Linked DNA regions of Homo sapiens: region 2 is linked to region 1. The links come from fine-mapping of genetic effects on gene expression. Tissue or cell type: gastroesophageal junction. Region 1 holds a variant in brackets; the other region holds the start of a gene. All regions are shown on one strand. Distances are between the middles of the regions.

Region 1 (5,143 bases):
ACCACCACACCTGGCTAATTTTTGTATTTTTAGTAGAGACGGGGTTTCACCTTGTTGGCCAGGCTGGTCTCAAACTCCTGACACCTCAGGTGATCCGTCCGCTTCGGCCTCCCAAAGTGCTGGGATTCCAGGTGAGAGCTGCCGCGCCGAGGCAGAGGTCTTGGTCTTGTAATGAGGCCGAGGGTAAAGAGTGGTCGTGCTTCCGGCTTCCTGCACACAAAGGCAATGGAGTTCATTCCCTGAAGTACAAGATTGGAAGTGCGACGCTGCCTATCTTCATTTTTCAAGGTCGTGTGATCAGTGGATGTGGCATTTTGTGTAAGATTTACAGTGGAATGCTGCTTATCTTAATGCTTTCACTGTCCTTCAATGAGCAGGTAAGAAAAAAAAAGGAAGAAAGAAAAATGTTGGGGGGGGGAATGCATTAGCGAATGCATTAGTGGAGTTGGCAGCCGAGTCCCATCCCTCCTCTGTCTCAATAAGTGTCAGATGATGCTATCATATAATTTTGTGGGAAAAAATAGGCCAAAGAAATGAAATTCAGAAGGACTTATTCTTTTTGGTTCTAAAATCAGTTTCTGAGAGCTGGCAGGCCCCAACTGCCAAGAGGAGACCCTGGCGGCCACAGCTCATCCTCTCTGACCAAGCCTTAGCTGGGGATGGGCCGGCCTCCAGGCAGGGCCTCCCGCTGGCTGGATCCCGGGCCACACTGTACAGAAGACAACCCCGTAGAGACCTTGGGTGGGGCAGAAGCCCCCTTCCCTCACTGACACCCTGCCGGTCTCTCCTGGGGTCTCCCAGTCTCTGCTGCCCAGTGGGGAAGCACCCGTCTCAGCCCAACCGCAGCCCCCCCCGGCTCCCTCCTGCCCTTTCACCTTTCCTGCCATTCCCCACTGTGTCCTGAAGTTTCTAAGAACATCCCCAGCGCCCTGTTGTCAGCTCTGGGAAGTCTAAAGTTCAGGGCTTTGGGTAATTAAACCCAAGGCCTCTCAGTGGGCTGGGGGTGAATGACCTGGCGAACGTGCCTGCGGAGATGCTGGGAGGAAGCTGAGTCAGTCTGCGTCTTTGTCAGGGTGGGCTGAGGCCAGTGACCCTCTGGGGGTCAGGGCCCTTGCAGGCCTCTTCCTTCCCTGACCTCCACCTTAGGAGGCAGCTGGCCCCTGAGACGCCTGCCTCACGACATTGTCCTGTCCCAGGAACTGGACTTTAGGAGGAGGGGAAGCTGGAGGGGGATGCAGCTTGACTCTTGGGAGAGACTTTGAGGTGTCTGGGCACAGGAGTGGGGAGTCCTCCGGGTACCCCATCAGGGACTGCTTCCACTGCTTGTATGGCCTCACCAGCCCAGCGCAGGAAGCCCCCTCTCCCTTCCCAGAATTGACCCTCTGCACCCTCTCCTGGGCCCTCTTCTCACTACCTCCATCTCCACCATGCCCCAACAGAGCCCCTCCCCCAGGCCCCTTTGGCCGCTCTCCACACCCCACAGCTTTCTGTCTGACCTGGTTTCTTAGCCTCTCTGGACCTCAGCCTCCTTATCTGTAAAATGGGAATAAGGATACTACTTCCCTTGTAACGCGGTGGTAAAGTTTAAATAAGCTAAGGAACACACTGCATGTCCTGCGGGCCCTGGCACACCAGACATGCTGACAGACGCTGGCTGCTTTCATCAGCTATGCAACCAAATTCTAAGGGGCCCTTCGTATGTGTCAGGCTGCGTGCCAGGAACCTAGAGGTACCACCGTACCACAGTACAAGATGCTGTGTCTGGCTTCGAAGAGATTTCAGTCTATGTGGAGAGAGAGAAAAGGGAAGCTATCAGCCAATAAAATCGTTTGCAAGCCTGTAATTCAGCAGGTTTTCAAGACCTGTCAAATGCCCAGCAATCTCACTCTGCAACTCTGCCTCTTAAATACAGCATCTTCCGGCCCAGCGTGGGGGTGGCTAAGCCCATCATCCAGATGTGATGAACTGGGGTCTGGGAAACCCACACCGGCCTCATCTGGCTTTTCCAGCCTGTCCTCCCTTCCACACATCAGGCTGACAGCACCAAACACGGCCGAGGCCTCAGCCCTGAGTCTCCCCGCTGCAGAGTGCCCAAGCCTGAGTTCCAGCAGGTTCTTCAGGGGCCGCTGACCAGGGAACACTGCGGTGAGGAGCGAGGACTTCGTCCCCACCCCGGCCCAGGGCAGGGGCTTCGTGGTGAGCCCACCCCACCCCAGAAGGCTCCTGGAAGGGCAGGGCAGACTGGCAGCAAAATCCTATAGGATGGGCCGGGCCAGAGGCAAGGGGTGGCCAAAGGCACCTGTCCAAGAGGTGGGAGGGACCACACCTGGGGGCAGGGACGAGTCAGGCACAGGGAACTCCGCCAGCCTAGAGGATCAAATTCCTCCGGGGTGAACTCTGAGATAGAAAGTTGGCCCGGGAAGCTCAAGGAGGGAGAGCGGCAGAGGGGAAGACTCTGCAATTCTGCTTGCCCCCCACCCCGGCCCAGGCAAGCCACCCTGCCCCCGGCCCCCACCTGCCCGCCCCGCCTGCCCTTCCTCACCCCGGTGCCTGCGGGATTGCTGGAGAGAACGCGGCGATGGAGCCGGGCAGGACCCAGATAAAGCTTGACCCCAGGTAAGTGAGGGCGGCGGGCCCTGGGCCAGTCGCTGGGCAGCGGTGGCCCCTATCCCGCGGCCTGTCCTCTCTCCCTCCCAGAGCCCTTTGGCGGCCGCACTCAGAATGAGACAGGACTGGAAATGCTCTAGCTGTTCCTAGGTCCTCAGGGACAACGTGGGTTTGGGCCAGGGTGTGACACTCCAGGGCCTCGGCCTTGCCCCCCAGCGTGGGGAGAGAAAGGTCGCAGAGCGGGGGCTGTGGAAGGCATTCGCAGAGGAAATGGCAGCATCCCTCAGCAGCAGGGGGCCCGTCCGTCTGTAAGGACTCACCCTTCCTCTGGGATCCTGCTCTTCCTCTCTGGTCAGTCCCTGGGCTGCTGCCCGACCCGCATGGAGAGAATCCACGGTGGGCTCTTCAGGCACGGCAGCCAGGCACAGCCTGGCTAGGTGGCAGCTTGTCTTACTCCCCCACCTGGGCCAGTTCTCCACTCCCTCTAAGAAAAGGGCCCTGAGGCCGGGCGCCTGTAATCCCAGCACTTTGGGAGGCTGAGGCGGGAGTCCAGGAGTTTAAGCCCAGTT[C/T]CAGTTTGAGTCCTGGAGTTCGAGACCAGTGTCTGAGCAACATGGCGAAATCCTGTCTCTACCAAAAATATAAAAAATTAGCCGGGCCTGGTGGCGTGCACCTGTAGTCCCAGCTTACTCATGGGGATGGGGGTTGAGTAGATCACTTGAGCCCAGGAGGTCAAGGCTGCCTGTATGAGCCAAGACAGACCACTGCACTCCAGCCTGGACAACAGAGCAAGACCCTGTCTCAAAAAGAAAAAAAAAGAAAGAAAAAGGAAGGAAGGAAGGAAGGAAAGAGAAGGGGAAGGAAGAGAGAAAGAGAAAGAGAGAGCAGAAGGAAGGAAGGAAGGAGAAGGGGAAGGGGAAGGGAGAGAGAAAGAGAAAGAGAGAGTGAAAGGAAGGAAGGAAGGAAAGAAAGAAAGAGAGAGAAAGAGGCCCTGAGGGGAAATGGACAAAGTCCTGCACTCAGGAGTGGTTGAGGGTCCAGTGTGCAACCCTCCCCCTTCCCCCAGCCCCCATGGTTCTGAGCACAGGCTGGTGTCTCGCCAGGTACACAGCAGATCTTCTGGAGGTGCTGAAGACCAATTACGGCATCCCCTCCGCCTGCTTCTCTCAGCCTCCCACAGCAGCCCAACTCCTGAGAGGTGAGTGGGGACCCTCCTCAGAGGGAACTGAGAGGAGGGAAACCAGGATAGCTGAGTGGAGCTGGGGAGAGGCGGCCCTGAGCTGGTGCACCTGGGCAGCCGGGGAGAATAACTGGCCCGGTGTCTGTCATCGTGGTTAAGGCTCTGGAGAAGGGCAATGCCTCAAGGAGTCAGTGGGTCAAAAGGGTAGCATGAGAGCCTGGCTCCGGAGAGCAACCGTCATGTTGGGCCTCCACAAAACTGGCCTCAAAGCTCATTCAAACTGCGGACACTGCGACCTGGGGCGCTTTTTCAGACCCCAGAGCCATCTGGGGACCCAAGATGGTGCCCAAGTGGTCCAAGCCCCATCGGGTCTCCTGGAGGGCTGCACGGCATCCGCCCTGGACCCATGTCACTCTAGAGGGTGGTTACGGTGAGTGACGTGCTTCACACAGGTGAACCAGTTGTATTTGTTTTACGATCCAGCCTTTCTGAAAAACCTTTGTCCTCACTGGAGCATTCTGTTGTCGGGTTTTTGTGTGTGTGTTTGTGGGTATTTGCCTCATTCCACCCCTGAGCTCTCAGGTGGACAGATGGGATTCAAAAACCTGTTCTACAGTGTTTATTGTAGTGGAGTAATTTGTTTGCAATAATAAGTCATAATTGTCCACTGAAGGGGAGGGTGTGGGGATCCCCGAGGCCAGCTCAAGTTCAGCTGTTGGAAGAATTCCTTGACTGGAAATTTTACCTTTGCGTTTTGTCGCTCTGTTTCCTGAAGATAACTTGGGGTGCTCCTGGTCGTCCATCTACTGCTTTGATTCCTTGGATCCCACCCATTCTTTCACTTTAAGAAAAAACAAGTAATTGTTGCAGAGGTCTCTGTTTTGCAGCTTCCCTTTTGCAAGAAGCACTTTTTCCAAATAAAACAGTAATTAAAAAAAAAAAAACATAGGTGAACCTGCAAAAGTCCTCGCAGTGTTGGCCAACAAGATTCTATTACTGAATTACTTTTGAAAGTGAAAGGCATTGGCTGGGAGCGGTGGCTCACGCCTGTAATCCCTGCACTTTGGGAGGCCGAGGCAGGTGGATCACTTGAAGCCAGAAGTTGGAGACCAGCCTGGCCAACATGGTGAAACCCCGTCTCTACTGAAAATACAAAAATTAGCCAGGCGTGGTGGCGGGCACCTGTAATCCCAGCTACTCGGGAGGCTGAGGCAGGAGAGTTGCTTGAACTCGGGAGGCGGAGGTTGCAGTGAGCCGAGATCACGCCACTGCACTGCAGCCTGGGCAACAGAGTGAGTGAGACTCCGTCTCAAAAATAAAAGAAAAAAAAGGAAAAGAAAAAGAAAGTGAAAGGCATAG
Region 2 (5,143 bases), 400 kb before region 1:
CTCTGGGAGTCATGATTCCCGTGGAGACTCCTTCAACCACATCTGCAGGGCAGGGCCGTGTGGCGGCTCCTTCCGGCCTCCACGTCCTCACGGTGGGATGAGCACTGGAGCGGGGTTGTGTGGCCAGGGTGGGGTGGGGGTGCTGGAGGGTGGGGAGGTGTAGGGAGGTGGTGGCAGTTTCCTTTGCCCTCAGCCTAGTCCTGAAACATCCCGAGGTGGAAGGGTCCGCTTCACCAGCATGGCTTCTCTTGCAGCCTTTAAACGGCACTCGCCTTCTGACTCACTCCCAGGAAGCTCCTCAAATATGCGCCCAAGAAATATTTTCCCTCGGCGACTGTTCTTAGCCTGCTGAGAGGCAGGGCAGGAGCTGAGACTCTAACCCCAGCTTGAACTCTGGACCCCAGACTCTCCCCCAAAGACTCAGACACCCAGAAACACAGAATAAAACTTGGTCCTGAAGCCAGAGGGACAGCCTGGAAAGTGTGGGGAAGAGGACGGGGGCCCCCGAGGGAACATCTCCCACAGGCCTGGCATCCCTCCCCTCCCAGCTCTGTACACGGAGGAGCCCAAGGCCAATGCCGGGGCTACGAGCCCCAGGCAAGGCCGTGACCCAAATGGAGGCTTTTAAACCCGAGCTCAGAGGTAAGAAGCCCACGGCCAGCACCTCCCGGCCCTCTGCGCCCTGGCCGCCTCCTCCGCACCACCCTCCCGGCCGGCCTGCCCCTCTCCTCCTTGTCGCTTCCCTTGCTTGCTGCTGTCTCCCGATCTTCTCCTCTCTCCATTCCCAGGGTCCTCAGTTTGTCTGCGTCTCACCTGTCTCGTCCTCTCACCCTGCAGCTTTACATGAGTTTTCTTCCGTCTCCATCACCCAGCTTTCCTGGCATCCCCTCTACCCCCAGCTCTGTACACAAGGGTGTACATCTTTCTCCTTGACTCTGTTCCTCTTGCTCTGGCTCTGCCTGTCTTTCTCTCTGCGAGTAAGCCTGGGCTCTCACCATGGATCCTTCCAGACATCGCCGGGCTGCTCTCTGGCCCTCTGTTCTCTTTTCTCTCTCTTTCGAGCATTCTCCCTCTGTCTTTCCCCTCAGATCTTGTCCCGTATCTGCCAGTTCATGCCTCCTCTTCCCCACTTTTCTCCTCTTCTTATTTTTTATTTTATTTTATATTTATTTATTTATTTATTTATTTATTTATTTATTTATTTATTTTGAGACAGAGTCTCGCTCTCTCTCCCAGGCTGGAGTGCAGTGGCGCGATCTTGGCTCACTGCAACCTCCACCTCCCAGGTTCAAGTGATTCTCCTGCCTCAGACTCCTGAGTAGCTGGAATTACAGGTGGGGCCCACCACGACCGGCTAATTTTTGTATATTTAGTAGAGACGGGGTTTCACCATGTCGGCCAGGCTGGTCTCGAACTCCTGACCTCAGGTGATCTCCTGCCTTGGCCTCCGAAAGTGCTGGGATTACAGGCATGAGCCACCGCGCACGGCCTCCACTCTTCTTTCTCTCTCCCTCTTCTCTTCCTCTTCTTTCCCTCTCTGGGTCTCTCTCCACCTTCCCCCCATGTTGTCCCATTCATCTCTTTCTCCTTTCCCTCTCCCTCTTTTTCTCTCCCTTCTCTTCCTCTTCGCTGTCTCCCTTTCCCCTATTCTCTCTCTCTCTCTCTCTGTCTCCCCGGACCTCTTTCTCTGACAGCTCCCACCTCCCCCAAGTGCTCCCCGCAGCCAGCCTCATCTGCTGTCTCCATCACTTACCTGGGACCACATGCGGAAGGAGGCAGAGACACAGGCAGCTCAGGGACACCCAGGGGACCCTCCTCCAGCGTGCCCCCTTCATGGCTGCGGCAAAAGTCCCCCTGGCTCCCTGGGGAAGCTCCACGGCCCAGCAGCTGCAGTGTGAGGAGCAGACGTGAGCCCGTCCCCTCAGGCGGCTGGCCCGAACCAAGTGCGTTTCTCCGAAGGGGCCAGGGAACCTGGGAAGAGGACAAAAGAGGGCGGGGCCCCACGCTAATCACCCTTTTCTCTCCTCAGCCCCACCCCACTACCCCACCAGGAAAGAAAACACCGATACACCCGTTGCTCTGCTTCTCATCAGCCTGAGCTGAGTGGCGGGAGGGATGGGAGGAGACATGGGGGAATGGGAACAGGTCACACTGGAAATGGGTGGGCCACCCTCCTAGCCGGGTTCCTGGGTCCTCTCCTCCCTCCCCAGGGGCTGCCCCTGTCCCACCAGAGCTTTGGGCTGCTGGGAAGAATGGGGAAGAAAGGGCCCCAGAGGGAGCGACCTTGGGGCTGTATGAATGGGGGAAAGAGAGTGAGACTTAAGCAGACCCCAAGGAATTGGGAAGCGGGGAACCATGTGGGTGAGGGGCAGGAACAGAAATGCACTGTATGCCGTCTTTTGGAAAGGGGTGGTGTGCTTGGAATATCTGCTCAGTGCAGGCGCGTGGCAGACCCCAGACGCGTGGCAGACCCCAGACGCGTGGCAGACCCCAGACGCGTGGCAGAACCTCAGTGCAGATGCGTGGCAGACCCCAGACGCACGGCAGATCCCAGACACATGGCAGACCCCAGACCCATGGCAGACTCCAGACGCGTGGCAGACCCCAGACGCGTGGCAGACTCCAGACGCATGGCAGAACCTCAGTGCAGACTCGTGGCAGAACCTCAGTGCAGACGCATGGCAGACCCCAGATGCGTGGCAGACCCTCACCAGATGGTGGACTTCTTCTTTCCAGGGCAGGGAGCTGGAGCCAGGGTGCAGGGAGCCAGGGACAGTCTGGGAGACTGGCCTGAGGGAGCTGGCATGGGCAGTGGGTTGAAGGCAGAACCTCGGTAGGAGGAAGCGACTGTAACCTGTGAGGAGGTGGAGCTGCTCCTGGAGACCTGGGGGCTCTGCTCACCCCAGTTCCACCTCTTGGAACTCACAGGCACAAGCGAGGAGGGAAAGGGACCCCAAGTAGGGTTGTAAAGACGAAGAGGGCAGTTGGTGTAGCTCTCTGCAAAGGAAAACGGGGATACCTCCGCTCCCCTCTTTGCCACAGTGTGAATCTCTGCTTCTGATTCCTCAAGACTTGATTCCCGAATGTGGGGTGTCTGTGGGGTGACTCGTCCCAGAGCAGGGACCTTCGATGCTCAGACACTGTGGGGCCCAGGACAAGGACTCAGGGTTTCTGCATTCCCAAGCAGAGCCAGCCTTGTCCAGCAAGGAGTAGGCAACCGACGCTGTGGCGCTGTCTCCGAGGGTCACGGAGGCCCTGTGACCACTTGCTTCTAGAAGCTGAAAGTCTGTTCATGGCCCCAGGCCAAAGCCTGGGCCACGCCATAATAATGCGGATACCGTGGGGAAGTGGCGTGGTCCCCCAACAGTCCCTCCAGCTCTGGGTGGACGAGCTGACCCTGTTCTTTCCTGGAGGTAAGAAAATCATAAAGGTAAAGAGTCATGTGGAGCATCCTGTGGGCGCCTGGACGGGGCAGCAGGAGGGACCTACTGCAGGGAATTCGCAGACACCAAGGCCCAGCTTGGCCTTCGTGATCATTTTGCACTTTTTTTTTTTTTTGAGATGGAGTCTTGCTCTGTCGCCCAGGCTGGAGTGCAGTGGCACCATCTCAGCTCACTGCAAGCTCCGCCTCCCGGGTTCACGCCATTCCCCTGCCTCAGCCTCCCTAGTAGCTGGGACTACAGGCACCTGCCACCACGCCCGGCTAATTTTTTTTGTATTTTTAGTAGGGACGAGGTTTCACCATGTTGGCCAGGTTGGTCTCGAACCCCTGAACTCAGATGATCCGCCCGCCTTGGCCTCCCAAAGTGCTGGGATTACAGGCGTGAGCCACTGCACCCGGCCCGTGGTCATTTTTCTGTCAGCTCTTGCTCGTGGGTCCCCCCATTACCTTTCCACAGGTTTTGTTTGGTGACGCTTTCAGGACAACAGTTTTCCATCTCTAGAGGAGAAAGGAGCATCCAGGTGAGACCAAACTAAGCGCTGGACATCTTGTTGACCGAACACAGGTAGCTGACCTCTTTCCCATGCCAGGAAGGCCAGAGGCACACAGCGCTCTCCGGAAGCTGCTGTGACGGCCGAGACTCCAGGAGGGCGTTACAAACCTGGGCTTGATCCCAGCTCTGCCACCGCGTCACCACAAAGTCACAGCCTCTTCGAGCTGTTTTCCTCGTTCACCTGTAAAATGGGGATAACACCTATCTGAAAGGTTGTAGGGTGGGAGTGAGCCTGTAGATGCTGAGGGGCTGCGGGAGTATTAGGACACCTGTTGTGAGGACACCTGTTGTTACGACACCTGTTGTGAGGACACCTGTTGTGGAGGACACCTGTGGAGGAACGTGGCTCCTCCTTCCATCCGGGCATCATCCCTGGAGGGAGACACAAACGAGGGCCAGCCAGGATACAGGAGGAGTCCGGAAGTGAATTTCCAGGCCCAGGTCTTTCCTGCGTCCCCTTTGAGTCTTATAGGATCCTGATTAGGAGCGTGAGATCCTGGAGAACTGGGCGTGCGCACTCCTGTTCACCTCTTCCCTGCCCACGCCCGTTTCCCTTCTGCTTTCCAGCTCCCCTCAATATGCCCATTTTCCAGAGTTAGGATGTGTCTGGGTCTCTGTGATAAATGGCTCTGTCTTCATCTGGGTTGGGTCACGGGACACCCATTTGTCCTTCCTTCTCTCCTCCCAAGGCATCCGATGGGGACAGAATGGGGTGAATGAGAGGGGACAAAATGAGTGGCTTCTCTAGTTCCTTGTGGCCGAAAAACCTCCTAGGCCCGCATACTGCTGGGTCTGCATAGGGGCAGGAGTCTGAAGTCAGGTGTAAGTTAATATTCCACGGGAGGCAGGAAGAGCTTAGTGTGGATGTGGGGTGTAAGTAAATTGGAGCAAGGATAAGATCATGAGATTCTCCCAGACTTGGCTTGAAGAGACAGCTGGGTTTGAGGCAGCAAAGCCAGGATCTCCAAGAGAGATTCCCCTTCTAAGCTACCCAAGTAGGAGTCCCTAGTTTTTTGGGTCCCCTAAAATTGCTTACCTTTATATCATTTATGCCTCGTGCTGTGAATAAAGTTCAATCTTGTCAGACTTAGGACAACTAGGCTGATCTCGAGCAGGAAGCTGGATGTTTATTAAGTCTGATTTACCTA

The links. PIP is the estimated chance that this variant, and not a neighbour inherited with it, causes the effect.
Region 2: it holds the start of MUC4, and the variant in region 1 is fine-mapped to the expression of MUC4 in gastroesophageal junction (GTEx, PIP above 0.99).

The regions. Positions count from the first base shown.
Region 1 is chr3:196,214,135-196,219,277 of GRCh38, forward strand. It overlaps SLC51A (solute carrier family 51 member A), which reads left to right and starts at 2,400. Exons shown (of 9, transcript NM_152672.6): 1 at 2,400-2,616; 2 at 3,708-3,802. The coding sequence starts at 2,579. It overlaps LOC124909479 (a long non-coding RNA gene), which reads left to right. Exons shown (of 4, transcript XR_007096240.1): 4 at 289-508. It overlaps LOC105374304 (a long non-coding RNA gene), which reads right to left. Exons shown (of 4, transcript XR_001740544.2): 2 at 4,530-4,625; 3 at 51-210. RefSeq lists an enhancer at 5,102-5,143. The variant C/T (reference allele first, on the strand shown) is at 3,177.
Region 2 is chr3:195,809,983-195,815,125 of GRCh38, forward strand. MUC4 (mucin 4, cell surface associated) reads right to left here and starts at 1,947. Exons shown (of 25, transcript NM_018406.7): 1 at 1,754-1,947. The coding sequence starts at 1,835. RefSeq lists an enhancer at 1-207.